3 separate regions of the Homo sapiens genome follow, and regions 1 and 3 are each reported to be linked to region 2. Evidence: microRNA targets listed by miRTarBase, many of them from high-throughput screens and not tested one by one. Region 2 holds a microRNA gene; each other region holds the end of a gene's coding sequence.
What was found. The annotated mature microRNA hsa-miR-7151-3p reads CUACAGGCUGGAAUGGGCUCA and lies in region 2 at 3,824-3,844, shown strand. An mRNA with a match to its seed (bases 2 to 7 or 8) in the 3' UTR can be bound and repressed. Matches are read on the target gene's strand: a 7mer-m8 pairs with bases 2 to 8, a 7mer-A1 pairs with bases 2 to 7 and ends in A, and an 8mer does both.

Region 1 (10,795 bases), not on the chromosome of region 2:
CTTGTTGGTAACTGCCACAGAGATGAATGGAAGTACCTTCTGTGGTACCGTTTATCCCCAGTCCTAATGTCTAGCCACGAAAATAAGGGCATCACTGTCAGCCTCTGAATTAAAAGAAAATCAGAGTCCAGGAACCAAGAAGCTTATGGTCTGTTGCTCTTAGGAAATGCCATTTCTGGAGATAGAACTGGTACCAAGTCATGATCCCTTGTCCTTAAGGAGTGCAGTGATCAGAGCTGACAGTGTCTTCTGACAGGGTGTTTCCAAAACAGTTGCATCAGGGGTGGGATTGTGGTTCCACTGGGGCTGTTGTGGTGCTCACAGGGAGGAGGGGTCACCCTCACACAGTGTTTCAGGAGAGGAGCCCGTGGGCTTTCTGATGGGCTGGTAGAAGTGCGCAGGAAAGAGGAGTGGCGCATAGGGTGTAGGTTTTTAGATCTGAGCAAGTAGGGCTGCACAGCCCTGGGTGGAAATGGGGAGGGCGAAATGGGGGACAGACTTAGGCTTAGGGATGAATGTCACGGGGTCAAGAATTCTGTTTCAGACTTTTTTTGCAATGGGATTTTCTTCTTTTATTTGTTTATTTTTATTGCTTGGTCCACGGTGCTTCGTGGTACATTTTCCTACCGCTTCGTGGTGCATTTCCTTACCTATGGGACCCTCAGGAAATGCTGACAGTATGGCAGTTGAGGTGAGATTTCTGGAGATAGAACTGGTACCAAGTCCTGATCCCTTGTCATTAAGGAGTGTAGTGGTCAGAGTTGACAGTGTCTTCCTCGGCAGCCATCCTCAGCAGCCATACTCTCCTATAAATGTTGACCAGGCCACTCCACCATGTTCCTTCCAGGCTCCCAGATCCAGCACCTGACACAGGTGGGGATTGCCAGCAGAATTGGAGCTCAGCCAGTGGAAATCCCGCCAAGCAGAGGCAGCCAGTATGGGGGGCCAGGCTGGCCTTCGTACGGGGAGGACGAAGCGGGGCGAAGAGAGGCCGTGAGTATCTCCTGTTTGGGTCATCATTTAAAATTTAGACATAGGCCAGGTGCGGTGGCTCACACCTGTAATCCCAGCACTTTGGGAGGCCGAGGCGGGCGGATCACGAAGTCAGGAGTTTGAGACCAGCCTGGCCAATGTAGTGAAATCCCGTCTCTACTAAAAATACAAAAAAAAATTAGCCAGGCGTGGTGACGGGTGCTGGTAGTCCCAGCTACTTGGGAGGCTGAGGCAAGAGAATCACTTGAACCCGGGAGATGGAGGTTGCACTAAGCCGAGATCGTGCCACTGCACTCCAGCCTGGGTGACAGAGTGAGACTGTCTCAAAAAAAAAAAAAAAAAAAAAAAAAAAAAGACATAATCCCTCAATTTAGCAGCTTCTGCTTTGGGGGGGGTCCCTTTTTAAAACCTACATTTAAAAAAGTTTTAATCTCTCTCACATTTTCCTGCCTCCTGGTGTTTTGGCTTACAGTTTTTAGCATCTAGCTTTTAGGAAGTATATAATTTTTCTTGAGGCAGAGTTCAAGCTTTCAGTAGTAAATTCGAATCTATAGGTGACAACTCTGGAGTTCATGTTTGGCGGGATTGCTGTATAAATATTCATGCTCTTCCACAGCATTTGTGTTTCACTGTGGGTTTGTTAATGTCATTTGTATTATGACCATGTGTAGGTAATTTTGTAATAAGCACACAGTTGGGGACATTTTAAGGCACAGGTTTTCTTTTTGAGACTTCTGTTCACTCAATATGAGCATCGGTAATTCCTACAAGTGCTTTCATTTGCTTTTCTCAAGAACTGTATATCTTGGGGGGATAAATTCATGAAGTTTGAAAATAACCACCCAGAATATTACTTTTTGTTTTCTCCTTATCGTTATGCTACAGTGTCTGTTGCATTTCTGTGCCTTCCCAACAGACACACTCAATTCCTTTCATGGCTGGATGCTCTTACCTAGTAAAAAGACATTAACTTTAGAATAAGGTGCTTCCCTAAAAGAGACATTGTTATACTTAGAGTCTCAGGTATCTGCTTTAAGTTTGCTGCCATTTCTCTTTTTTTGCCTTCATTTTGCCCAGCTTAGCTTCATGAGGTGTTTGGGGTTGGTTTTGGTGTTTTGTTTTTTTGAAAAAATGGAGGCAAGGTCTCACTATGTTGGCCAGGCTGGTCTTGAACTCCTGGCCTCAAGCAATCCTCTCTCCTTGGCCTCCCAAAGGATTGGGGTTACAAGTATGAGACACCGTGCCTGGCATGGTGTGTTAAGGTTTTCCTGTCACATCCACTTTGGAACACTGCTCGGTCACTATTTGGAGAAGTGAAACGTAGAAAGAACCTAGAGCTGGAATGTCATGTTTGGCTCACAAATAACTTAGCCCTAACATGGTTTTTAGTACGCAGATTTAAGTACTCTTACATATAAATGCAAAGAGACATTTATTTCCACTGGGAGAGAAATAAACATGAAAAAAAAATCTGAAAAGTGTAATAATTCTTGTGAAACTCCTGCCAAATTAATCTCTATGCGGCAAATATCAGCAAAACTATTTTATGCTTTAGTGCAGATAAGTTTTTAAAGACAAGGCTCTACAGAGCCCTCAGTAGACACACACTCACGCAGAGACAGGAGACAGACAGCAGCTAGATAAAGCAGAAGATGGTTGCGTAGGCTCCAGTCCAGGGCAGAGGCACCTGTTCCCCTTGTCAGCCTGGCATGGATCCGCTTAACCTCCTTCAGCTCTCAGATATCACCCGACCTTTCACATCATGGGGCACTCCAGCCTCCCTCCCTTCTGTTCTCCCCAGCCCCCTGGTGTCTTCACGCCTCACCTGCAGCATAGGCAGCAGGGCCCTGTTAGAGGGCTGAGTTGGTGGATGGACGTGGGCAGTCCTGGGAACCTTCCTAAAGCCAGTTTGCATTTGATGTTTCGGCTTATTCTTCGTAGGAAGTACAGTGACGTTTGCCATGTTTTTCAGACACACATGCTCGGACATCAAGAGTATTCTTCTTCACCGCTATTTCAGGTGCCAAGGACTTCAGGCAGGGAGCCCTCAGCTCCTTCCGGGAACCTCCCCCACCGGGGACTGCAGGGCCCTGGGCTGGGTTACCCCACCAGCTCCACGGAAGACCTCCAGCCTGGCCACTCCTCGGCCTCTCTCATCAAAGCAATCCGCGAGGAGCTCCTCCGGCTCTCCCAGAAACAGAGCACCGTGCAGAACTTCCACAGCTGATCGGCCTCGCCTCGCAGATTTGCCAAGTATCCGCTTCCTGTGGAAGCAAGACCAAAAGGAAATCAACTGAGTGGGTGTTTGGAAGAGGAAGGAGCAACTCTCGGGCAGCCTGCCCAAGGGAGGGAGCAAGTTGCAATTTAGAAGATGCCATACGTCGTGTGACAGCTCATGAGCCTTTCACTGGGCTGGCAATTGTCTGAACACTTGGGTTCAGTTGAAATATATGTATTTTGGCCAAAAGCCAGCAGCACTTCACAAAAACAAAACACAAACCTAAGCTAACAAAATGACTGCATTCGTCTCTTTTTTAAAGGTAGAGATTAAACTGTATAGACAGCATAGGGATGAAAGGAACCAAGCGTTTCTGTGGGATTGAGACTGGTACGTGTACGATGAACCTGCTGCTTTGTTTTCTGAGAAGAGGTTTGAAGACATTTTATTAACAGCTTAATTTTTCTCTTTTACTCCATAGGAACTTATTTTAATAGTAACATTAACAACAAGAATACTAAGACTGTTTGGGAATTTTAAAAAGCTACTAGTGAGAAACCAAATGATAGGTTGTAGAGCCTGATGACTCCAAACAAAGCCATCACCCGCATTCTTCCTCCTTCTTCTGGTGCTACAGCTCCAAGGGCCCTTCACCTTCATGTCTGAAATGGAACTTTGGCTTTTTCAGTGGAAGAATATGTTGAAGGTTTCATTTTGTTCTAGAAAAAAAAAATCCCTCCCAAAGTGGGGCAAAAAGCTTTATATTTATTTGATTATCCAAAATACAGATCAAAGTTTAGATCTACATTCTTCATTGTATTTGCTGTTTCTTAATTGGGCACACACAACTCCTGGTCATGTCCCAGTTCAGCACCGATCGCTAAGGCCGATCCTGTAGAATGCGGCTTTCAAGAGGTCCTAACTGATCCTTTCTTCCACTTTGCTGTTGATTTGTTCACAAATTATGTCTGAATGAGAAATCTTCTGTAAGCAGAAGTTATTTAATAATTCCCAGCACCACGAAATTGTTATACATACATCCCTACCAGTCACATTCCCTGTGTTCAGAGCCTGGAAATGAAATTGAGTTCAGTTCAGCCTCTCTGTAATGAATCAAGAAATGTAAAAGAGCTTTGAGACCCCAAGGGAAAGGAGAGAGTTGCTTCTCATTTCTGATTTTATTGTGCTGTTACTCTGTCGAGTGGCTATTAAAATTGTCTTATGCTCTTTGGGCTAAGAGGGGATCATCTCGCTTAAGATGTACTCCTGATGTAAACATTTCCCCCACTTTCCAAATAATGGTAAAGAAAACAGTGGCAAGGGCTGTTCTGTTTTCTGGTACCTGAGTGAAACTCAGAAGAAAAGCAGGCTTAGCTAAGAGATTTTCACTATTAACCTGTTTTTATTAGATCAGCGAAGACAGTCATGCATCGCTTAATGATGGGGATGCATTCTGAGAAATGTGTCATTAGGCTGTTTTGTTGCTGTGCCAACATCCTAGATTGTACTTACACAACCTACATGGTATAGCCTACTACACACCTGGGCTGTGTGGCATGGCCTATTCCTCTTAGGCTACAAACCTGTACAGCATGTTACTGTACTGAACACAATGGTAAGTATTTGTGTATCTAAACATAGCTAAACATAGAAAAGGTATGGTAAAAATACAATTTTATAATCTTATGGGACTACCATCAATATGTAGACCGTCATTGACCAAAACATCCTGATGTGTGCATGACTGTACTTTTCATTAAATAACAGATAAGGGGCTATAGAATTTGGGGCTCTGACTGATCAAAACCTGTGTATCTGTGTCAAGTTTTAAGACCCCTGAAACAGCTAAAACAGGTTTCCAAAGTGTAATCACTGGATTTCAAAACCATGTTTTAGCCCTTCATTAATGAAGCCTGTTGTACAGATTTAGAGTCTTACAATATGAGGGAAGTTGGTTCTGGGAAGGTAAGATGTAGCCAGTTTTCATCTGGGCACCTCTGAAAGAGAAGGAGTGCAGGAGAGTAAGTCTCTCAAGGACGTTCAACAAAGGACCAGCAGCATCTTATCAGGCGATCCTCAGAGGCTCCAAGGAGCATTGGAGAGAATGCCCCTTTCTGGGCTTGATGTCTTGGTTTTGGTTTAATACCAAATTTCTCTTGGTCTTGGTTTAATACCCGACTCCTCCCAAATTGAACGATTATCTTTGTATGTCACTCAAAAATACCAGGTTTCCTGAATATGTTATTAAGAATTTCAGATATCCAAGCAGAATTTTATTATGGACACCTTGTAATGAATTCAAATCGTGTGACAGCAAACGGGATAAATGGCCCCTTCTCACCCAGTTCCGCTCAGGGCCATACAGGCTTGCACATAGAGTGTGCTAAAAATGGTAACCTCCTTTGAGCATTGCAGAAAGAGGGTTCTGTTTCAAATTGGGCTGACCGTAAAAGCAATTTTGATGTCTTTCAAACTACCATAAAGGGATTTTAACTGTATTTTTATTCTTAGAAACAATACACCTTTAAACAGATGTCAAGACCAAAGATGATGTATAATAAACAGCCGGTGGTTATGGTGTGGTGTGAGCAGGCCCCCGGATCACCAGCCCTCTGCTGGTGGTCATAAAGCACACACAGTTTGTACTTGCTTCCTCTCGACGCCTGCCACAACAGTTTTGCCAGTCACCAAACTCAGAAAAAACTAGCTGTGTGAGCAGCACCGTACCCTAGCGGTCTTCAGACATTAAGTTCACGTCATCCACTGAAAGGAAGGGTCCTTGCGTTGACAGCGTGTGGCTTTGGAGTCCGTTTATGGAAGCACTCTACAATGAACAGTTGAATTTTATGTCTATTCTTTTTTCCTATTTTAAAAGTTCTAGTGGTAACACAAACTGTAAATTTGAGTCAGAATGTTTGGAGAAATGTTGTTTTTTTTTTTTTCAGAGACTACTTTGTCACTCACTGACCATGTCTGGTTCCTTCTCTGAACTTCATTCTCCCCATAAGCCAAACAAGAACAGACCTCCCCCGCCACCTCCCAGGCACCGTAGTTGTGAGAATCAGATGTGATCATGTGTGCAGATGTCCTGTGAGGAGGGAGCATAAAGCACTGTGAAAATGTAGCATGCTGTCTATGTGGACGCCCTAGGATGAGTGATGTGAAACGCTGCACTACTGCGGTGAATGGGTTCACACATGGGTAATGAGCAAAACCGAAAGCTCGGTGTGACTCAGTTTCCTCACTCCCATTTTGCTTTAATTTCACTTCCTTCACCAATTTTCCGATTGCATTTATTAAGCATCTTTCTGCTCCCGACTTTCTGGTGTCTCTGGCACCAAATAACCCAGCAGACATGAGCCTTGCCTTCTGAGATTTTAGAATCTAAGATAGCACGAGTGGGTATAGAAGATGGAAGATACCGATAAATAACATGGTTTAAGTGTCAATAAAATTCATTCGAAGAGATCAGGCGCGGTGGCTCACGCCTGTAATCCCAGCATTTTGGGAGGCTGAGGCAGGTGGATCACTTGAGATCAAGAGCTTAAAACCAGCCCAGGCAACATGGCAAAACCCCGTCTCTACAAAAAAATACAAAAACTAGCTGGGTGTGGTGGCGCATGCCTGTAGTCCCAGCTGAGGCACGATAATTGCTTGAACCCGGGGGGTGGAGGTTGCAGTGAGCTGAGATTGCACCACTGTACTCCAACCTGGGCGACAGAGCAAGACTGTGTCTCAAAAAGAAAAAAATTTGTTCAAAAGACATAAATGAATTAGGCACCCAGAAGAAGTTGCATGTTTGGAAATGCAATATCTTGGGGAGACGTCAACTTCTGAAGTGACTTTGAAGGCAGGGCAGCTACCCAGGCAAATGGCGTGGAAGGAAGAGCTGAGAGTGGGCCTGGGAAAGGCTGTAGGGAAGGAGTGAAGCTGTCACTGAAATGAACTTGATCTTGATCTGCTTTGATATGGGGACAGAATCCCCGACTGCACTATTGAGGGAGTTTCAGAAGAGAAGGAAGAGGTGCTGGAAGGATGCTTTTGCAGTCATGCAGCAAGGAAACGACCAGGGCTGTGAAGATCTACAGAGGAAGTACTCCAGTGTGGGGGAGGCAAGGGAAGAGGACGAAAATGATGAGAATGACACTGAGGTCATTGTTTAGAGCAGATCTCAAGCAGCCGTTTGGCCACGCCATATCCTTTGTGGAGCATAGTGGGTTATCTATCTGTCTGTCTGTCTATGTATCTGTCTATCTATCTATATATATATTCAGCTTCTTTACTGCTACCTACACATTTTTCTCCAAATTTTATTAATTTCATAGTGTTTTGATTTGGGTGGCAGATGACTTTTAAGCAGTGGGTGTTTGCCGGCCAGATCTTTCCTGGCATGCGGACTGTGAGGCAAAGCACGGGTGAAGGTAGGCGCTAAAGGCTTTGGGCTAAAGCCAGCACGCGGTTCTGTGCTATAGGAGTCTCCCGTTTCCCGTGGACAGGTTCAGCGTTCCTTCTTTCGCACAACTTTTTTCTAAGTGTTCCAGTGACCAAGCCAGTCATTCGGACACTGATTTGCAGTGCATTGGCAGTAATTCACAAATTAGTTGTTATATAAGTCTCTCTCATCCCTTTCACACTAGATTCTCAGACATGAATGAATTTGTCGTTTGGAAGGAAAGCTGGGTAACGTTTTGGGCACAGGGGAAGGAGGACTCCGGTCTTAACTCCCACGCTAACTTTAGCTCAAGTGGAGTTTTCACCGTGGTCATTTCTACCTCCGGAGCAAGGTGCCAGCGCCAGTACTAGAGCCTGCTTATCCACATTTGCCCTGGACAGGAGCAGGAGGAAGTCCACTTCTGTACCGGCAGACAGAGCATGTGAACACAAAACACATTTCTATGGCATAGTCAACTGAACTTCATTTTTACATTTAATCTAACATGTTAACACGTTCTAACAGGGTTTCTATGAGCAGCTGCTGTAACATACTCATCAACTATGATAGACTTAACACTTGTTACCTAATGAACAAGGAGGATGTGCATTTCGGGTTTCTTTTGATATTCGTGGAGGTGATTGTCAGTGTTTAAACAGGACTACTTTCTCCACTATGAAGATGACTTGGAAATCGCAACATCATGGTACATTGCTAAGTCCATGCTTGTGTGTGTGACAGTAGGCTTGATAATTTATCTTAAAACACAGCAGCATTGAAATTTAGGAAAAGAATATTAAATGCCTTTGGAAACATGAAACAAAGTTAGGAGCCAGTAAGAAAGTGACAGAAGCAATGAATGTCTTAATGCAGTATAGTTAAAATGGCTTCCCACAGGGTAGATAATTATCCAGGATCCTTCCTTTTCCTTCTTCCTCCAGGTTTTTCAGGGGTCACTTCACATTTCTAAAGAAAGAGTGAATAGGCTGGGCATGGTGGCTCAAGCCTCTAATCTCAACGCTTTGGGAGGCTGAGGCAGGAGGATCGCTTGAGGCCAGGAGTTTGAGACCACCTTGGGCAACATAACGAGACCCCGTCTCTACAAAAAAAATTTAAAAATTAGCTGAGCATGGTGGCATGTGCCAGTAGTCCCAGCTACTCGAAAGGCTAAGACTGGAGGATCGCTTGAGCCAATGAGTTGGAGGCTGCAGTGAGCTATAATCACGCCACTGCACTCCAGCCTGGGCTGCAGGGTGAGGTCCTGTCTCTGGAAAAAAAAAAAAAAAAAAAAGGAATAGGTAAAAGGGACAGAGGTGAAATTTTGAGTGACTTGAGTCTCTTGCAGTCCCTGATTACACAGAACCTTTCTGGGCTACTTGGAGCATCACGAATAGTCTTTCCTGTACTTACCAGATTTCAAGTATTCATAACTTGACTCCCTAAGTGTACAAGTTGGGAATAGTACAGGGCCAAGTTCAAGTCGCATATGCTGTACTGTTCCTCCTGCAAATGTGGGGAAAGAAGAGGGAGATACTAGAGGAACTGAGGCTCCACCCATTCATTCAGTTGCTCTAAGCACCAGAGGACTTGTTTCAGAAAAGGGGAGTGGGAACGCCCTCGACTTTGCCCTCCTCCGGAGCATCTCTGGGACGCAGGGAGTCTGGCTAGCGTTAATAGGAAAGGTTGCTCGGCAGAGCTGCCCTGGAGTACTGACTTGTCTCTCCCTCCTTTGTCAAGGTCCATGTTTTTCTGGCTCTTCCTGCACACTCATCCCTAGATTATGAGCGTTAATGTACGAAATGTGCAGAGCAAATTGAGGCCAACTGTGGCATCAATACTGCAACTTAAACTTGACAATCATGGTTTGCTGGTCCTCAAACAGGCACTGAAATCTCAGTATGGGTATACGATTTAATAATCGGCCCCTCCCTTCTATTTGTCGGTTTTATGTTTCTATCCTTCAATAGCTGCACTGTTTTCTAATGTGCTGTAGAGTTTTTGAAATAATTTATGCAAGTATTTGGTTTCCATGTTTACAATTTATACAGCTTTCCTAGCATTTTAAATGGAAATGTCAATAAATGCTATGAATTGGTGTCAAAGTGATATTTTCTGTTGATTTCCTTTGCAACATGATAGTTTTCTCGTTTGTAAAACATGAAACATTGGATGAGATGATCTTTCTGTTCTCTAATTTTGTGTCTCTGGTGAGAACACCCAGTACTTTTGTTACTGGTGGAGGGTGTCCAGGTTCTTGGCGTCTTGAACAAAGAGTTGGACAAAACACACAAAGCAAGGAAAGAATGAAGGAATTTATTGAAAATGAAAATACACTCCACAGTGTGGGAGCAGGCCTGAGCATAGGGGCTCAAGGGCCCGGTTACAGAATTTGTGGGGGTTTAAATACCCTCTAGGGGTTTCCATTGGTTACTTGGTGTACGCCCTATGTAAATGAAGAGGTTTAAGTAAAGTCACACAGTCATTTACTCGACGTACACCCTATGGAGAGGATGTTTCCTGTCATAGCTGAACTGTGGCTCGGCCTTATGTCCCCTACTCCAGACCCCATTTTCCTGCCTCACTTTCATTGTCCAAGAAATTAAGTTGAAGGTATTCTATTCAGTGTGTGGAATTTGCAGACTTGTTTTCACTCGTTTTTGCCTGTGCCAATCCTTTCTACTCAGTGTAGTTTGACTGCTACCCACTTAGCAAATGGATGAATCCACTAAGAGCAAATTCAGTTTGGAATTAAAAGATTAGTGCCTCACAATTTAGAAAGATGAGAAGACCAAAGTCCACACAGTCTTGAAAGGTAATAGGATAACCCTGGAGTTGTTTACACAACCCAAGAAAACAAGATCCCCTTGAAACTTAGAAAAGGGGATGGGCGCTGTTTCTCACGCCTTAATTCCAGCACTTTGGGAGGCCGAGGTGGGTGGATCACTTGAGGCCAGGAGTTCAAGACCAGCCTGGCCAACATGGCAAAACCCCATCTCTAATAAAAATACCAAAAAAAAATCAGCCAGGCATGGTGGCGGGCGCCTGTAATCCCAGCTACTCGGGAGGCTGAGGCAGGAGAATTGCTTTAACCCAGGAGGCAGAAGTTGCAGTGAGCCGAGATCGCGCCACTGCACTCCAGCCTGGGTGACAAA
Region 2 (7,000 bases):
CTAGATTCAGTTTGCCAGTATTTTGTTGAGGATTTTTGGTATCAATGTTTATCAAGGATATTGGCCCGAAGTTTTCTTTTTTGTTATATCTCTGCCAGGTGTTAGTATCAGGATGATGCTGGCCTCATAGAATGGGTTATGGGGGAGTCCCTGCTTTTCAATTGTTTGGAATAGTTTCAATAGGAATGGTACCAGCTCTTCTTTGTACCTCTGGTAGAGTTAAGCGGTGAATCCATCTGGTTATGGGCTTTTTTTGGTTGATAGGCTATTCATTACTGATTTGATTTCAGAGCTTGTTGTTGATCTGTTCAGGGACTCAGTTTCTTTCTGGTTCAGTCTTGGGAGGGTGTATGTGTCCAGGGATTTGTCCATTTCTTCTAGATTTTCAATTTGTGTGCATAGAGGTGTTCATAACATTCTCTCATGGTCGTTTTTATTTCTGTGGGTCAGTGGTAATATCCTCCATGTCATTTCTGATTGTGTTTATTTGAATTTTCTCTCTTTTCTTTTTTATTAGTCTAGTTAGCAGTCTATTTTATTAACTTTTTTTCAGAAAATTAGCTTCTGGATTTTTGATCTTTTGAAAGGTTTTTCATGTTTCTATCTCCTTTAGTTTAGCTCTGCTTTTGGTTATTTATTGTCTTCAGCTAGCTTTGTTATTTGTTCACTCTTGGTTTCCTAGTTCTTTTAGTTGTGATGTTAGGTTGTTAATTTCAGATCTTTTTAACATTTTGATGTGGGAATTTAGTGCTGTAAGTTTCCCTCTTAACACTGCATTAACTGGGTTCCAGAGATTTTGGTATGTTGTATTTTTGTTCTCATTAATTTCAAGATTTCTGCCTTAATTTTATTATTTATCCAACAGTTGTTCAGGAACAGGTTATTCAATTTCCATGTAATTTTGTGGGGTATTAATTTGTTTTCATGCTGCTATGATGAAATACCCCAGGCTGGGTAATTTGTAGAGAAAAGAGGTTTAATTGACTCACAGTTCCACATGGCTGGGGAGGCCTCAGGAAACTTATAGTCATGGCAGAAGGGGAAGCAAGCATGTTCTTTTTCACAAGGTGGCAGGAGAGAGAAGTACCAGCAGGGGAAATGTCAGATTCTTATAAAACCATCAGCTCTCCTGAGAACTCACTCACTATTATGAGAACAGCATGGAGGAAACTGCCCCCATGTTCTGATTACTTCCCACCAGGTTCCTCCCATGAGAGGTGGAGATTTTGGGAAGTACAATTCAAGAGGAGATTTTGGTGGGAGCACAGCCAAACCATATTATGTGGGTTTGAATGCATTTCTTAATCTTGATTTCTAATTTGATTGCACTGTGGTCTGAGAGATTGTTCATTATGATTTCAGTTCTTTTACATTTGCTGAGGAGTGTTTTACTTCTGATTATGTGACCAATTTTAGAGTAAGTGATGTGTGGCAATGAGAAGAATGTATATTCTGTTGTTCTGGGGTGTAGAGTTCTATAGATATCTGTCAGTTCCACTTGATCCAGAGTTGAGTTCAGGTCCTGAATATTTTTGTTAATTTTCTGTCTTGATGATAGAGATATTAGAAAATATTGTCAATGGGGTTTTAAAGTCTCCCACTATTATTGTGTGGGAGTCTAAGTCTCTTTGAAGGTCTCTAAGAACTTGCTTTATGAATCTGGGTGTTCCTGTTTTGGGTGCACATATATTTAGGACAGTTAGCTATTCTTGTTGAATTGAACCCTTTATCATTATGTAATACTCTTCTTTGTCTTTTTTGATATTTTTTGGTTTAAAGTCTTTTTTTGTTAGATGCTAGGATTGCAATCCCTGCTTTTTTCTGTTTTCTATTTGGTTGGTAAATTTTCCTCCATCCCTTTATTTTTAGCCTGTGTATGTTTTTGCGTGTGAGATGGGTCTCTTGAAGACAGCTTACCAGTGGGTCTTGGTTCTTTATCCAGCTTTTTACTCTGTGTCTTTTAATTGGAGCATTTAAGGTTAATACTGTTATGTATGGATTTGATCCTGTGATCATGATGCTAGCTGGTTATTTTGCAGACTTGTTTATGTAGTTGCTTTATAATGTCACTGGTCTGTATACTTCAGTGTATTTTTGTAGAGGCTGGCAACAGTTTTCCCTTTTTATATTTAGTGCTTCCTTCAGGAGCTTTTATAAAGCAGGTCTGGTGGTAACAAATTCCCTCAGAATTTGCTTGTCTGAAAAGGATCTTATTTCTTCTCTTATGAAGCTTAGTTTGGCTAGATATGTAATTCTGCATTGGAATTTCTTTTCTTTAAAAATGTTGAATATTGTCCCCCAATCTCTTCTGGCTTGCATGGTTTCTGCTGAGAGGTCCACTGTTAGTCCAATGGGCTTCCCTTTGTAGGTGGCCTCGCCTTTCTTTCCAGTGGCCTTTGACATTTTTTATTTCATTTTGACCTTGGAGGATCTGATGATTACATGTTTTGGGGACGATCTTCTTGTGGAGTAAGTATCTTACTGGGGTTCTCTGCATTTTCTGAATTTGAATGTTGGCTTCTGTAGGTAGGTCAGGGAAGTTCTCCTGGATGATATCCTGAATTATGTTATCCAAAATGGTCCCATTCTCCTCATCTTTTTCAGGTACCCCAATCAGTCATAGATTCAGTCTCTTTACATAATCCCATATTTCTTGGAGGTTTTGTTTATTCCTTTTCATTGTTTTTCTCTATTTTTGTCTGCCTGTGTTATTTCAGAATGACATTCTTCAAGCTCTGAGATTCTTTCTTCTGCTTGGCCTATTCTGCTATTAATACTTGTGATTGCATCGTGAAGTTCTTGTTGTGTTTTTTTCAGCTCTATCAGGTTGGTTATATTCCTCTCTATACTGGCTATTTTGGCTGTCAGCTCCTGCATTGTTTTATCATGATTCTTAGCTTCCTTGCATTGAGTTGCAAAGTGCTCCTTTAGCTCAGTGAAGTTCATTTTTTAGATCCACATTTGGAATCCTATTTCTATCATCTCAGCCATCTCAGCCTCAGTCCAGTTCTAAATCCCTGCTGGAGAGGTGTTGTGGTCATTTAGAGGAAAGGGAGCACACTGGATTTTTGAGTTTTCTGTGTTTTTGTGCTGATTCTTTCTCATCTTTGTTGGCTTATCTACCTTTGATCTTTGAGGTTGTTGACCTTTGGATGGGTTTTTGTTGTTGTTGTTCTTGTTGTTTTGCTCGTTTTTTCTTTGAACAGTCTGACCACTTTTCTGTAGGGCTGCTATGATTTGCTGGGCGGCTGCTTCAGACCCTAGTCACCTCAGTTTTTTCAGTACCTGTAGGTATTACCGGTGAAGGCTGCAAAACAGCAAAGATGGCAGCCTGCCCCTTCCTCTCAGAGCTCTGTCCCAGAGAAGTACTGACCTGTTGCCAGCCTGAATGCACCCATAGGATGTGGCTGGAAACCCTGTTTTGGAGGTCTCACCTAGTCAGGAGGAATGGGATCAGGGACCTCCTTAAAGAAGCAGCCTTCCTGCGTTTTTGTAGAGCAGCTGTGCTGTGTTTGGCTTCCCTTCACCCCCATATAGTTTTGCACTTTCCAAGGCCCACAGGTTGGACTGGGTGAGATGCCCAAACAGCACAGGTGGCAGCCCACCTGGCCCCCTGGGCACTCCATCACAGGGAGAAATTAGAACTTTGTCAGCCATAGAACATGGGTGAGGGTGGTTGGAAGCACTGGTTGGGAGGACCTGCCCAGCAAGGAGGAATGGATTGGGGTTCTATTTAAAGAAGCAGTCTGGCCACACCTTGACAAAACAGCCATGCGTTGCTGGGGATCCATCTCTGCCTGTATTGGCTTGGATTCTGCAAAGCCTACAGGCTGGAATGGGCTCAAAGCAACATTGGCAGCTCATCCCTCCCCACTGGGCACTCCAGCCAAGGGAGAGATCAGAGTTCTTTCCTAGAATATGGGCAGGGGTGGCTGGAGGTCCCTATTGGGAAGTCCTGCCCAGTGGGGTGGAATGGATTGGGGTCCCACTTAAAGAAGTAGTCTGGCCACATTTTCATAGAGCAGCTGTGCTGTGCTGTGCTGGGGGTCCCTTACTTGTCCAGACTGTTTGGACTCTCCAAAGCCCACAGACTTGAACAGCTGAGTTGTCCAAATAACAAAGGTGACAGCCCACCCCTTTCCCTGGCAGCTCCATTCCATCTCAGGCAGGCACTACCCTGTTGCTGGTGGCTGGCTGAAGTTCCAAGCCAGTGGGTCTTATTTTGTGAGGTGCCTTGGAAATGGGGCCCACAGATGGACGCTGTTCAGCTCCCTGGATTCGGCCCCCTTCCTAGGGGTATGTATGGACCTCCCGCCTTGACTGAGTTGTAGTCACCTTTGCCAGGGATCCTGTGGCTGGGGTATGTAAATCTCCTGGGTCTCTGTGCATACCTGAGTGGCTGCCCTGCTGAGACTCCACACAGCTCTGTGTATCTGACCCAAGGTCCTGGTGGAGTGGGTTTATGAGGGGATCTCCTGATCTGAGGGTTGCAAAGATCCATGGGAGAAATGTGGTTTCCCAGGGTGGCACATTCACTTACCACTTCCTTGGCTGGGGTGGGGGTTCCCTTGGCTTTGCGTCACTTCCAGGTGGGCTATCATCCTGCCCTACTTTTCTCTGTTTTCTGTGGATTGGTTATTTCCCTGATCAGTCCCAGTGCGAAAACCTGGATATTTCAGTTGAAGGTGCTGTATTTACTCACTGCTTTTCTTCCTCTTTATGAGTGCCATGCACCATAGCTACTTCTAATTGGAGGTCTCGGCCCACTCTCTGCTCTTCATCTTTCTCAATTCTCTTTTCTGTATTTTTGTCTGACTGTGTTAATTGAAAGAATTGCTCTTTGAGCTCTCAGATTCTTTCCTCAGCTTGGTCTATTCTGCTGTTAATACTTCCAATTATATTATGTAATTTTTGTAGTGAATTTTTCAGCTCAAGAAATTAAGTTTTTGTCTCTCTTTAAGTGAGAATTTCACCTTTCAGCCCTTGAATCATTTTACTGGATTGCTTGGCTTCCTTGGATTGAGTTTCAACTTTCTTCTTGATCTCAATGAGCTTCTTTGCCATCCATATTTTGAATTCTATGTCTGTCATTTCAGATAATTCAGACTGGTTAGGAAACATTTCTGGGGAGCTAGTGGGCTCATTTGGAGGTAAGGGGGCAGTGTGGCTTTTTGAATTGCCAGAGTTCTTATGCTGATTCTTTCTCATCTGGGAGGGATGGTATTCTTTTAATTGTGGTGTAAATTGAGTGTACTTTGTTGGCTTTGTTTCTGAAAGTTTTTAGAGAACTAAGGCTCTGTATGGTGTCTTCGTTGCAGAATTCTTACTCTTGGTTTTGCAAGGGCAGGATTAGTAAAGTGATTTTGGTGTTGTAGTTTGGGCTACAATCTAGTAGATGGTCCTTGAGAGCAATGGGCAGTAGATAGGCTTCTACTCAGCCTTGTGGTTCCTTTGTCTATGTTAACATTTGCAGCTGTGTTCTGCAGTGCAAGGGGGAAATAGATGACCCCCTCATCAGGTCTGCTTGGGGGAGCCACATCCAATCACTAGCACTGTACCTTCGATTTTGTTGTTGTTTTTATTAGGTCTTTGGGGCCACGGGGCTCCCTTAGGGAGAGGTCTGGTATGGAAATAACCCATATCCTTACTGGACCAATCCCCTTCCCCAGGTACCTTTCCAGTTTGGAAATCAGCCTTAGCATTCAGGCACCCCACATTGGGTGCCTAACTTCCTTCTTCTTCAGTCTCTGGGACTGCATCTTTTCTCAATCCATGTTTGGTAGTTTCTCTCTGAAGATTTGTTCAAATTATGTTGGTGTATATTAAATTGGGTCTCTTTCTGTGGGAGTGGCAATTTCTGACTGTATCTAGTCCCAATCTATATTTTAAAAGTATGGCAAGTTTTGAATTTTCAGTATATGCTGAAACTGGGTGGTTTTTAAAGAGCAGAAATTTATTTCTCATAGTTCTGGAGGCTCAGGAGTTCAAGATCAAGGCACTGACAGGTGTGATCTTGTGAGGGCTGCTTTTGCTTCCAAGCTGATGCTCTGTTGCTGTCCTAATGTGGTGGGAGGTGGAAGGGGAAAAGGGTCACTTTTATGATGTCATTTATTTTAATGTGATCACTAGTCATCAGTATTTTTTGTTTTGTTTTTGTTTACTTTTTGTATTTGCCTAGGAATAGCCTATATGAAAATTTTATATCTGAAGTATACACAACACTTAGTCCAGGATCATATTATTAGATAAGCACTCACATTTGAGGATGACAGCAAAGTTTTTTAATTGATAGAGTTTCTTAATTTAGTTGTAAATTTCTCTGTAATTTAATTCTAATATTCTTTTCTAAGTGGTTTTAAATTTAGCCTTATGGTTCAGTGTATTAGAAGCAAAGTCCAATAAAATTACATCTTTATAATATCCTGTAAGACATTAAATTACATATTATTAATTCCACTTTTGAAAAGTAATTAGGATCTAATAACTGCCAATAGCAATTGCATACATTCACTAAAATTTACTTGTTTGTGTATATAATTTGGGGGTTATTTTCAAAAATTATGTGGTTTGCAGTGGATTATTTATTAGCACTTAAAATTTTCCACATGAAAAATAAGCCTTTGATTACCAAACAAAGGGATATGATCTCAATATCATCTTCTTCCTAAAGTATTTATTCCAGAGTGAATATCAGGATGCCCATTTGTAGGGAGACAAAATCTATCTGAAATTATTTTCCCGTGAATTGCTCATTTTTATTGTTCTCATAATCAACACAAGATGTTAAAATAAATGTATTTGTAAGCTTATTTCTTATTTCATAATACATCTGTAACATTTATTTAAAAGTAAATCTATTCAAAATATTGGAGAATCATTTGTTATACTTTGTCACAGTACTTTGACATGTTTATGGGTGATAGATTGTTAGATGTGGGAACAATATAGTTACAAATGACAAGCACTCACAACAGAGTAAAATTCTTATTGGCATCTTGAA
Region 3 (7,073 bases), not on the chromosome of region 2:
AAGGCAGGCCGGGCATGGTGGCTCACGCCTGTAATCCCAGCACTTTGGGAGGCGCCAAGCTGGGTGGATCATCTGAGGGCAGGAGTTCGAGACCAGCCTGGCCAACATGGTGAAACCTTGTCTCTACTAAAAATGCAAAAATTAGCTGGGCGTGGTGGCACACGCCTGTAATCCCAGCTGCTTGGGAGGCTGAGACAGGAGAATCACTTGAACCTGGGAGGCAGAGGTTGCAGTGAGCCGAGATCGTGCCACTGCACTCCAGCCTGGGTGACAGAACGAGACTCCATCTCAAAAAAAAGGAAGAATTAAAGGTAAATTCTTAGGGACAGTTTTTGGCTAACAGGTATATAGGGGAGTGGGGTAATGGTGGTGGCATGGAGGGGAGTGTAGTGCTTACCATGGTTTTCTGTTTGCCTTTAATGGTCCTATTTGCTGTCTTACTATGGGTCTGTCTATATGAATTTAATATACAGTTGGCTTGATTCGTATTGGGGGAAAGAGTTCTTTTGGTTTGACAACTTCTGTTACCGCAACAGCTTTCAAGATGTTAGAAAGTTCAAGCCAGAAGTTTCTTCAGGGTTTGGTCTATCTCATTGGGAACCTGATGGGTTTGGCATTGGCTGTTTACAAGTGCCAGTCCATGGGACTGTTACCTACACATGCATCGGATTGGTTAGCCTTCATTGAGCCCCCTGAGGTAAGGCAAAAGAAAAGCTGAATTTTGGGTAGTTGTAGTATACAGTGAATAGCTGACCTACTTGATGGTAGGAAATTGGAGTTGGTATTTGAGTTTCTTTTTTTTTTTTTTTTTTTTTTTGAGACGGAGTATTGCTCTGTCGCCCAGGCTGGAGTGCAGTGGCATGATCTCGGCAACCTCCGCCTCCTGGGTTCAAGCAATTATTCTGCCTCAGCCTTCCAAGTAGCTGGGATTACAGGCACCTGCCACCATGCCCAGCTAATTTTTTTGTATCTTTTAGTAGAGATGGGGTTTCACCATGTTGGCCAGGCTGGTTTTGAACTCCTGACCTCAAGTGACCTGCCCACCTCTGCCTCCCAAAGTGCTAGGATTACAGGCGTGAGCCACTGCGCCTGGCCTAGGGTTTCTTAAAAAATAAGAGCCATTAGGAGTTTTTAAGTTATTATTTTTAATTAATTAATTAATTTATTTATTTTGAGACAGAGTCTCACTCTGTCGCCCAGGCTGGAGTACAGTGGTGTGATCTTGGCTCACTGCAACCTCCGCCCCCCAGGTTCAAGCGATTCTTGTGCCTGAGCCTCCCTAGTAGCTGGAATTACAGGCAACTGCCACTGCACCTGGCTAATTTTTGTATTTTTAGTAGAGACAGGGTTTCACCATGTTGGCCAGGCTGGTCTTCAGCTCCTGACCTCAGGTGATCCACCCACCTCGGCCTCCCAAAGTGCTGGGATTACAGGTGTGAGCCACCATGCCTGGCCAAGTTATTATTTTTGAAACAGGGTCTTGCTCTGTCACCCAGGCTGGAGTGCAGTCATGTGATCATGGCTCACTGCAGCCTCAACCTCCGGGCTCAGGCACTCAGCCTCTCAAGTAGCTGGGACTACAGGTGTGCACCCCAATGGCTCGCTAATTTTTGTATTTCTTGTAGAGACAGGGTTTTGCCATGTTGCCCAGGCTGGTCTTGAACTCCTGGGCTCAAGCGATCTGCCTGCCTTGGCCTCCCAAAGTGTTTAGCTAAGATTAGCTACTGCGCCTGGCCTGGAAGTTCTTTTTTAAGGATAGGCAAAATAGAGCTTGTGGTTAAAGTATTAAGTAATTGATTCAGGAAGTTATTTTAACACTCATTTGCCACTCACCTATTTATTCTTTCTTTCTTCTTTCAGAGAATGGAGTTCAGTGGTGGAGGACTGCTTTTGTGAACATGAGAAAGCAGCGCCTGGTCCCTATGTATTTGGGTCTTATTTACATCCTTCTTTAAGCCCAGTGGCTCCTCAGCATACTCTTAAACTAATCACTTATGTTAAAAAGAACCAAAAGACTCTTTTCTCCATGGTGGGGTGACAGGTCCTAGAAGGACAATGTGCATATTACGACAAACACAAAGAAACTATACCATAACCCAAGGCTGAAAATAATGTAGAAAACTTTATTTTTGTTTCCAGTACAGAGCAAAACAACAACAAAAAAACATAACTATGTAAACAAGAGAATAACTGCTGCTAAATCAAGAACTGTTGCAGCATCTCCTTTCAATAAATTAAATGGTTGAGAACAATGCATAAAAAAAGTTGCACAAGTTCCTTATTTTCCTTAATATTTCACTTCTATTTAATACAAGCTGGGACATAAAAATTCTGTTGGGGATACCTGGGGGAAGATGTGAGAAACTAATGCTGAATTCAGCTTATACATGATGAAAAGAAAAACCAGACAAAAGGAGCACATAAATATGCATACAGTGTAACTGTTATTATTTTAATACCCACGATAAGGGATTTTTGTTAGCATGTTTAGGGGGAACGAGGATTGGTGGGATCCTTGGGCCACAGGAATCTGAGGCAACGGAAGATATATAGAGTGATCGTCCCCCTGCCGAAGGAACCTGGCACCTGTCAAGCAGATGCTGCAGTTCAAACTTCAGCTTTTAAGATAGATAGCTATTGAAGGCAGAGGGTCAGCAGGAGGATGTGTATTTCTAATCTACCCTGGTAAAGTCATAGGTAAGACTCAAAAGCGGGATCTTATTCAAAAGGCAGGTATTTCCTTTGTTTTCTGTCTTGAAATAGCCCCTTCCCCTAAGGTGCATTCTCTCAAGTTTTCAGTATTGCTTTATTTGCAGTGATTAAAAGAGATGAGAGACTTTGGAGACAGACAACGTAAGCAACACATACACACATGAAATACTCTAGACAGACATGAATATAAATCTGGCCTAATAACCAGTTTTCCATGTAACAGTGATTTTGTGTTTCGGGCTGAAGCAGTGGTTATATTAAAAGCCACTAATTCCCTTATCCCTTTAAAAGATTTTTACAATTCTCCAACCACAAACAGCACTTCTAAAACTAACTTTACTTTCTGCCCATAATTTGTTCTACATGGAAAAAAAAAATATTACTTTGGCCAGGGGTGTGTGTAAATGTGGCAGAATTCCTAGGCAGGCTGACCTTTACAGTATGGGCCTTTAAGATACTGGATCCTGGTTGGGCACAGTGGCTCACGCCTGTAATCCCAGCACTTTGGGAGGCCAAGGCGGGCGGATCACCTGAGGTTGGGAGTTCGAGACCAGCCTGACCAACATCAGTTTCAGTAGAGAAACCCCGTCTCTACTGAAAATACAAAATTAGCTGGGTGTGGTGGCACATGCTTGTAATTCCAGCTACTCGGGAGGCTGAGGCAGGAGAATCGCTTGAACCCAGGAGGCAGAGGTTGCGGTGAGCCAAGATTGTGCCATTTCACTCCAGCCTGGGCAACAAGAGCGAAACTACGTCTCGGAAAAAAAAAAAAAAGATACTGGATCCTGCAGGACATGACTCACTACTGTTAAACTCAACTAAGCAATGGAGTGTTGCAGTGGGAGTTGTAAATAATGCTTCTACCATCTGTAGGAAGTAACAGAAAAAAAGACTTAAGATCCTATCCGCTTTGCCATCCTCAGTGGGCCTGGAGGTTGAAGCAAGCAAAGGGAACAAATCAAAATTACTCAATTTCTTTCTTTCTTTCTTTTTTTTTTTTTTTGAGATGGAGTCTCCCTCTGTCGCCCAGGCTGGAGTGCAGTGGTGCAATCTCGGTTCACTGCAAGTTCCACCTCCCGGGTTCACGCCATTCTCCCGCCTCAGCCTCCCAAGTAGCTGGGACTACAGGCGCCCGCCACCATGCCCGACTAATTTTTTTGTATTTTTGTAGAGACAGGGTTTCACCGTGTTAGCCAGGATGGTCTCAAATCTCCTGACCTCGTGATCCGCCTGCCTCGGCCTCCCAAAGTGCTGGGATTACAGGCGTGAGTCACTGCACCCGGCCCAAAATTACTCAATTTCTTAAGCTATATTGAAGGGTTTTCTCTGTCCTTACAGGTCAAATGAATAATTTGTGACACCTAGGTCAGCTTGCTCCATGTCCTATTTAGTAATCAAAGAAGAGTGGCACTATTTATGACTAATAAATTGAAATTCAAAAACAGCCATGAATACAGGCAAGAAAAGTTTCTCTAAATAACTATTCTGTAAAAGAAATGAAGATTTCACATACTTGAAATTACTGCTCAGCCAGCCACATAAGTAGTTTCCCTATGCTTGTAAGCCAGATGTTTGATCAGTATATTAGTAAATAAAAAGCTGAGCTTACACAAGTATTTCCTTGGCACACTGAACTTTCTTTTTGAAACATATCACTCTGTTACCCAGGCTGGAGTGCAGAGGTGCAATCCTGGCTCACTGCAACCTCCGCCTCCTGGGTTCAAATGATCCTCCTGCCTTAGCCTTCCGTGTTGCTGGGATCACAGGCATGCACCACCATGCCCAGCTAATTTTTGTATTTTTAGTATAGACAGGTTTTCACCATGTTGGCCAGGATGGTCTCGAACTCCTGACCTCAAGTGATTCACCTGCCTTGGCCTCCCAAAGTGCTGGGATTACAGGTGTGAGCCACGGCACCCGGCCTGAAGTTTCTGAAAACAAATTAGAAGACTGTTGGCTTGGCTAATCTCGTAGTTCAGGGCCAAGTTTCTGTAGTCAGAATGAAGAATAAAATTGAAAGAAAAAGGGGGAAATGCTTATACTTGGCATTAAGTTGAATGCCTCAAGTCTTAACTATGGCTTTGTAGATGAGGCAAAAGATTTCTTAGTGGTAAAATTTCTTCAACAGGTCAATGCCAATCTGTATGCCATTTTAGTAAAGTAGGTAAGGAGAGTAGCCGCTCAGTAACGTTGGCACTAAAGAAAGAGTGTGGCTCTAGAACTTCCAATTCCATTGCTAGATGTGCCCTTTAAAAGATGGTCCAGTGCTTTCAGGGAAGGATGTTTAGCCAGTTTTCCTAGTATTTGTTCCTTAAGATTTTTTGACCTGTGCTTAATAAGAGGGCATAAAAAAAGGCGCGGGGGTGGGGGCGGGGGGAGAAGAACCTGTTGATTAATGTGCACCATGACCTGCATTTCTTAGACAACAGCTTGTATGTTTTGTCCATGTTGTATAGAGAACCACAGACTATTTCAGTAAATGTTAATAGCTTCCTTTTGGAGTTCTCTTAGTTCGGCCATTTGAAAGGAACCTGAAAGAAATAATTTTTACCTTACCAAAAACAATTTCCATGGTAACACTGCCTGTGTTACAATGACAGAATGGGTTTTGAGTTAAGAGAAACAAAACAGTTGAAGTATACACTGACACAGTATTTGGATATTTAAATCTGGTATTTTGGGGGGATGTTTTTGAAGAAGTAGAGGCTGCAGCCATGTTTCAAGTTAGTATCCTAATATAAAATTACAGCAGTGGGTATACTAAAGAAATATAGCTAAAAAATGTTTGCATCTTGGCTTGCCGAGGATAATAGGTCCAAATATACTTGACCATAAATTCTTTAGTAAGATGAAGCTGTCTCTAGTTGTTATCCTCACAGTGTCAACATTGAACCATGACTTCTGAGATTCATCTTTAATGCTGAATACGTACTTGACTTGCTTTTTTTCTTCAGTTGAATTTCTAGCATCCCTTTTACCAATTCATTTATTGGCTCAGCTTGTTAATTCTAATTTGCCTTTGACTGCTCAGACGTGGCTTGAAAGACTTGAGCATTGTTCTGATGTTGAGGGAATATTTGCTTTTTCTGTAATGACTGCAGATCAGATGGGAGCTCTTTTACACAGGTACTTGAGGCTCAGCTCATCAAGAGTTCAGTATGATGTGTACAGAACACAGGCTTCTAGTTGAGTGGGAGTGGTAGTAATGAGCTGGCACTTCCATGGAGGACGTAGGCCTTTTAAGAAAACAGGTCAAGCACGGTCATTCAGAGTAGGTTATGAATAAATGGTGATCACTTCACTGCCACCACCCCGGACAAGTAGGACTCGCTCTAGTCCCTCGGTAAGCACCTCTAGGAACTCCATGTCTTCAAAACTTGTCAAGGAGACAGGCAAAAGAAGAGCACAAACTTAAAACCTGGCATCATCATAATCTGAGGTTATCTGATCATAGAGCTACAAAATTAGCTGCTTAATTATTATATATTCAGAAAAGTCTGAACTTTGGATTGAATTTAACCCTGTGAAGTAACCAGAGATCCAGTCCTTTTGCATACATAATACCAGACTCCCATTTGTGTATTTAAAAAATGGGAAAACCTAGAAGTGTTACTCTAAATAAGATAAAAATGATGAAAGAAGAAGAAAAGCCACAATAGGGCAGCTAACAAGATTCCTAGAGAGAACCCAAGTAATTTCTAAGTGAAGCTGCTCAAGTCAGATTTTTCTGCCAGTTCGGTTTGTCTTTTTCTTTTTAAACCTTTTTCTTTTCTTTCTTTTTTTTTTGAGACAGAATTTCCTCTTGTTGCCCAGGCTGGAGTGCAATGGTGCGATCTTGGCTCACTGCAACCTCCACCTCCTGGTTCAAGTGATTCTCCTGCCTCAGCCTCCCGAGTAGCTGGGATTACAGGCACCTGCTACCACACCCAGCTAACTTTTCTATTTTTAGTGGAGACGGGGTTTCACCATGTTGGCCAGGCTGGTCTCGAACTCCTGACCTCAGGTGATCCACCTGCCTTAGCCTCCCAAAGTGCTGGGATTACAGGCATGAGCCACCACACCTGGCCTAAACCTCTTCTTTCTTAATGGTACTGGTGGGAATAAGCTAATTTATGTGTCAATGCTGAAGGGTTTCCCGTATCCCAGGAGTCCTGGGATGAAGGTATGAGGAAGAATCCCTATCTCTTTTTTCCCCTCAGTTAAAGGAGGTTCTATCTCAGCTTCTCCCCTAACTCTATCCAAAAGAAAGGCTTTGCAAAGCGGGTAGAACCTAAAAAGGCGAAAGGATGTGGGTATGCTGTCTGTAGGATTGTCAGGAAGGGTTTTATACACTGAATATTAGATGTCATGTTGCAAATACA

Region 1: miRTarBase lists KIAA1549 as a target of hsa-miR-7151-3p. Seed matches in the 3' UTR shown: 8mer at 6,698-6,705 and 7mer-m8 at 6,834-6,840.
Region 3: miRTarBase lists SLC12A6 as a target of hsa-miR-7151-3p. Seed matches in the 3' UTR shown: 7mer-A1 at 4,608-4,614, 7mer-m8 at 4,165-4,171, 7mer-A1 at 4,045-4,051, 8mer at 3,970-3,977 and 7mer-m8 at 3,836-3,842.

Annotation. Positions count from the first base shown.
Region 1 is chr7:138,830,331-138,841,125 of GRCh38, reverse strand. KIAA1549 reads left to right here. Exons shown (of 20, transcript NM_001164665.2): 19 at 848-993; 20 at 2,966-9,745. The coding sequence ends at 3,220. Among named protein-coding and RNA genes, the nearest start is that of ATP6V0A4, 38 kb to the right of the region's middle. RefSeq lists a silencer at 8,868-9,162 and an enhancer at 10,243-10,742.
Region 2 is chr10:67,400,195-67,407,194 of GRCh38, reverse strand. It overlaps MIR7151 (microRNA 7151), which reads left to right and starts at 3,785; the gene lies at 3,785-3,844. The region is part of intron 5 of CTNNA3 (catenin alpha 3); the gene reads left to right.
Region 3 is chr15:34,227,893-34,234,965 of GRCh38, forward strand. It overlaps SLC12A6 (solute carrier family 12 member 6), which reads right to left. Exons shown (of 26, transcript NM_001365088.1): 26 at 1,892-6,080. The coding sequence ends at 5,989. It overlaps EMC4 (ER membrane protein complex subunit 4), which reads left to right. Exons shown (of 5, transcript NM_016454.4): 4 at 537-697; 5 at 1,861-2,264. The coding sequence ends at 1,896. Among named protein-coding and RNA genes, the nearest start is that of EMC4, 6.4 kb to the left of the region's middle.